Linked DNA regions of Homo sapiens: region 1 is linked to region 2. The links come from fine-mapping of genetic effects on gene expression. Tissue or cell type: tibial nerve. Region 2 holds a variant in brackets; the other region holds the start of a gene. All regions are shown on one strand. Distances are from middle to middle.

Evidence for each region. PIP is the estimated chance that this variant, and not a neighbour inherited with it, causes the effect.
Region 1: it holds the start of SSPN, and the variant in region 2 is fine-mapped to the expression of SSPN in tibial nerve (GTEx, PIP 0.98).

The regions. Positions count from the first base shown.
Region 1 is chr12:26,194,487-26,197,100 of GRCh38, forward strand. SSPN (sarcospan) reads left to right here and starts at 1,087. Exons shown (of 3, transcript NM_005086.5): 1 at 1,087-1,465. The coding sequence starts at 1,187.
Region 2 is chr12:26,242,330-26,245,091 of GRCh38, forward strand. All of the region lies in intron 1 of SSPN-AS1 (SSPN antisense RNA 1), which reads right to left. Among named protein-coding and RNA genes, the nearest start is that of SSPN-AS1, 28 kb to the right of the region's middle. The variant CTTTAG/C (reference allele first, on the strand shown) is at 1,530.

The sequences.
Region 1 (2,614 bases), 48 kb before region 2:
GCGATTCTCCTGCCTCAGCCTCCCGAGTAGCTGAGACTACAGGTGCGTGCCACCACGCCTGTCTAATTTTTGTAGTTTTAGTGGAGACGGGGTTTCACCATGTTGGCCAGGCTAGTCTTGAACTCCTGACCTTGTGATCCGCCCACCTCGGCCTCCCAAAGTGTTGGGATTACAGGCGTGAGCCAACAGAGCTTTTAAAAACAAATACACGTGAGAGGCCGGGTGCATGGTGGCTCACGCCTGTAATTCCAGCACTTTGGGAAGCTGAAGCAGCAGGATCCCTTGAAGCCAGGAGTTCAAGACCAGTTTGGACAACATAATGAGATCCCATCTCTATGAAAAAAATTTTAAAAAATTAGCCAGATGTGGTGGTGATTGCCTGTAGTCCCAGCCACTTGGAGACTGAGGAGAGAGAAGCTGTTGAGTCCAGGAGTCTGAGGCTGCAGTGAGCTAGGATGGTGACAATGCACTCCAGCCTGGGCAACACAGTGAGCCCCTGTTTGGAAAATAATAATAATAATTAATAACATATGTGAAAGAGAGTTCACAATTAGTCCAATATCTTTAGAAAGATTCAAAAACACCTAAATGCGAAAAATGCCTTTATTCATTTGTCAGCTGGATTACAGAAAGTAGGAAGAAAAGAGCCTGTGCCTCTGTAGGAAAGTAACAACGACTTAACTTCTGGAAATGACTTCGCAGCTTAGAGCCCAGCAGTGCCTATTTTGGATTAAACTGTGTATTAATTAAGCTCAAACGATTTCAACATTCATCACCTTGCATTGCACTTCACAGAAAGCAAAACCAAAACAATCCTGGAGTTTTGAGTGAGGAAAACAGACGCCCCGCACTCGCACACGCGCGCACTCGCAGCCTGTCTGAAGTGCAGAGGTTCAGGCGGCCAAGGGACCCGCGCCGGTTTCCGCGGGCGACCTGCAAATCCTGCCCGGGGCCCGGCAGGCGCTGCGTCCCGGCGCGTTGGCAGTTGGCGACCCCCCTCGAATCCCCCCTCTGCTGCGGGCTCCCCGTGGCCTTTGGAGGCTCGGTGAGTCGGCTCCAAATGTTTTCCATATTTGTTCAGCCTCCATAATTCGAATACCAGGGCAGGCCGAGCCAGCCGTGCGCCGCGCTCCAGGGCCCAGGGCGCCGCACACGCACCCACCCACCCACCCAGCCTCGCAGCGCCATGGGCAAGAACAAGCAGCCACGCGGCCAGCAGAGGCAGGGGGGCCCGCCGGCCGCGGACGCCGCTGGGCCCGACGACATGGAGCCGAAGAAGGGCACGGGGGCCCCCAAGGAGTGCGGGGAGGAGGAGCCCCGGACCTGCTGCGGCTGCCGGTTCCCGCTGCTGCTCGCCCTGCTGCAGCTGGCCCTGGGCATCGCCGTGACCGTGGTGGGCTTCCTCATGGCGAGCATCAGCTCCTCCCTGCTAGTCAGGGACACTCCATTTTGGGCTGGGATCATTGTAAGCATCAAGTCTGTTTTGCCTAAGCGCGTTTGCCAAACAGGAATGCGAAGTCGCATGGTCGAGTTGAGACTAACCCAGCTGCATGTGCCCTTCCCCGGGTTCACTCTTCTAACTCGCGCTCTGCTCGGTGACTGATGCGTGGGGCACTGGGTTTTCCCGGGCGGGGCAGGGCTGGACGCGATAGGGCTCCTGCCCCTCTCCTGCTCGCGGCTCCCAGCGCCTCCACGGGGCCTGACTCTGACGCTCTGGAGCTGGGGAGTTCATTTCAAAAGCTGCTTATTTTGGTCAGACTGAACAGCCTCAATAACAACAGCGGATTCATTCGGGCTTTTTCCTTATCCTGTTACCCAGACCCCACCCCTGTCCTTAAACAAGTGGCAAAAAGTGAATTAAGTTCATCTAGTGAAAGCAGGAGAGGAGAAAGCCTGTACTTGGAGTTGCCACATTGAGTAGCATTCATTTTATGTTTTAAACTGAGGCTCCATTAGTAAGTTTCCTGAAATGATGGGCTAAGGCAGGAAATGCGAATACAGCAAGCACAGCCTTAATCCACTGGAGTCTAAAGTGGGATAAACCCAGGGCGCTGGCCATGGCAGAAGTATATTTGGGACTCCACCGATGGATGTACTGTTCTAAGTTGAACAGTACTCAGCTGTTGTGAGTGTTGAAACATGTAGCATACTTGGCTTGATTAAATGAATTCTTTAATGTAAAACGGGTGCCACTTACTGAATACCTACTGTGTGCTCGCCCTGCTAGAGGCCTGACACATATTATTTCTAATCCCCACATCGTCCTGATGGGATCGTTTTAATCATTCTCACTTCTCAAATGAGGGAACCCAGGCCAGACTCACCCAGGGTCATGAGTGGGTAAAGCATTCAGCCATGCTGATTCCTCTTTATGCTAGACTATATCTGCGTTTTCCTCATTGAACCACACTGCCACCACATTTGGTTTGTAACTTTAATATTATGTTATATTACAGTGTCTTGTAGCATATTAAACTCTTTCACATGCATTATTTCATTTGAGCCACGAAACAACACTTTGAAGTGGGAACTGTTATTCCTTTTGGATGTGAGGAAATAGGCTAAGAGAAGTTAGATGACATTCTCAAGCCCAGAGATTGAATGTGGTCGAATC
Region 2 (2,762 bases):
AATAGTTTGTATCCGCTGGAGCCTAAGTACAAAACAGCAATCCCTCTGCCCTCTGCAAACATTAGAAAGTGCAACAGAGAAGATTTTCTTGTGTTTGTTCCCAAGCCATAATCTGTACTCCATGGGCAAACTGGGTCAGGCTTCCAAGTCCTGGCATCTAGGAATCCTGAGGCTCACTGACCTGGGAGAATGATGCTAGGGACAGAATAAGACTTTTAGAGCCCAGAGCCATCCCATTGGCCACTCCCCTACTTCCATAACTGCAGGTAACTTTAGATTATAAGAAATACCTTATACAACCTTTCAGGGAGTAAAAAAGTAACAAAAGCTTAGGGTAATGAGCAGTGTACTTTGGAAAGGAAAATCCCACCATCTTTGTTTTTGAGACTCTGGTAGGTTTTATGAATTAAGTGTTTGCACAGATATATATGACTACTTTCTTCAATGCAGCTGGCCAAGTTATTTTCTTCCTGCCCCTCCATTAAGCTCTGTCCCTGAGCCCTGCCCAGCACCAGTAGTAACTCAGGTTCCATATAAGAGCTGGACTTTGGCAAAGCCCTGGTAGGGACTTTTGTGTGACAGTAGGAAGGTGCAGAGCAAACTGGTTTCCTCAAATTTTATAGATTCATGTCCAGACAGTCAAGGTCAGCCCTGGAATCCAAGAAACAACACCTTCAGGGGCCTTTTCCAAAGCTGTTCTTACCAGGCCACATTGCCTGCCCCAGGCTCCATGGGGTGGTGTCAGAAGTGGGCTTAAAATGCAAGGCTATTCTGTTCAAACCTAAATGTAGAGTTCTATAAATTGTCATTTTGGGTACCCTTAAGAGCTAAGATAGATGAGATTTAGATTTGTAGCCTCCTGGTGAATTAAAAATAGACATGAAATATAGACAGGACCAAACAATCTTGCTGGGGGAGAGATGCCTTCCTGCCTTTGGGAGAAATGTCACAGGATCTGATCAGACCATGAACAAACACTCCAAGCCACAGTCATTGCTCCAAAAGTAGTGGATCTATGAGGTCAAAAGAAGGGCATAGCCAACACGACGCTTGACCCCAAGCCACCTCCCCTCCTACTCCAAGTTCACTCTTTCTCTGCTTTTCTTTCATGCAGAGGAAGAAGAAACAAAACTAGGGTGAGGGACCAAGGAGACGTCAGCATGGAAACCCTTGGATAGCTGCCCACAGAGCTTTGCATTCATTCCTCGTATAACACAAAAGAGTTTCTGGATGAAAAAGAGTTGAAGGTCAGAGTGAATGAACATGTGAGGTACTTAAAGATAGGCACTAAGGTTTTCACGCTGTGTTCTGGCAAACTTAGGATTTATTGAAGGTCATGGACTCTTTTGTAAGAGGAATTAGGCTTCAGGTGGGGTTTTTATGAAATTACTGGATTTTAGTGTACTTTTGAGGGATACTTCTCTTCTTCCACCCCCAGATTATACCCTCATCCACACTCTACCTCTGGGCATTGTTGTCCCAGTGCAGTCATGGCCCTTGACATTAGCAAAGGTGAGAAATCTTCTGCT[CTTTAG/C]TTTAGGTCTTGTTACTTAGAGTCAAATGTTACCTATTTATTATAATATATTAAAATCTTCTGCCCTTAATTTTAGGTCTTGTTACTTGTAGTCAAAAGTTATCTATTATACTTGTTTTCCTGTAATAAGGAAAAGTATGAAAAGGGAAAAGGAAATATCATTACAACCTCTTTTAGTTTACTCCCAATTCGATCACCTTTGCAGTTACTTCTTATCTTAAAATCACTATGTTAGGGCTGGACAGATTCCTTCCAGTCCAGCTTGTGTATTTTACAGAAAAGCAAACTGAGGCCAGATGAGGTTAGATGACTCGTTTAGGCTCACTCACCTCAACTCTTTTTCTTATTAACATAAACTCTTGGCTTAAAACTGGCATATGTTTTTCTCCCCCTCCTTTTCCCCCCTTTACTCTTTGTCTTATGATTTATCTTCTTTTTCCTATTTGATTGGGATCTGCAAATGTATAAACCCTAATTTCAACAGGTTTGAAACCCCTGCCCAGTATTCTCAAGGATATTAGGCAATAACTCATTATTTTTTCTTTTTTTCTGGGACAGGGCAAAATGTTGACATTTATTTTGCTAATATACCCAGGATTTTTCTTCTATATTTATTTTTTAGAATAAAAGAAGTAAATAAAATGGAAGTTACTCATATTCTCCGAGAATGAAGAAAGGGAAAAGGTGATGTGGGGGACCCAAGACCTATTTGAAGAAGGGTAGCTGTAAGCGTGACTAGAAAACAGTAAGGGGCAGACCAAACAGCCTCTTTCCTTAAGAATGAGCCCTTGGTGTTGATTATGTAACACTGGCGACTGCAATCCCCGAGGAAGCTGCCCGCCTGCCACAGTGTGGTTCAGTGGTTAAAAACAGACTTGAGACCAGTCATATTGCCTCGTGTCCAAGCCTAGGTTTTGCTACCATTTACTAGCTATATATATACGTGGACAAATTCCTCAACTACTCTATACCCAAGTTCGTTCCCTCATCCATAAAACGGGGGTAATAAGAGCACCCATCTCATAGGGTCATTGTGAGGCATACATGGGTTTGTCTCTGTAATGCGCTGGGAAGAGTGCCTGGAACATTCTAAGGGCGCAATCTGTGCTTATCATTATCATTACCTGTTATCAACCCTGTTTCCCAGCTCATCTTTGAATCTGAAAATATGGGCTAGAGATGGAAGAGGAGGGGAATTATTTTATTATACTTGACTAGGTGCTCAGGA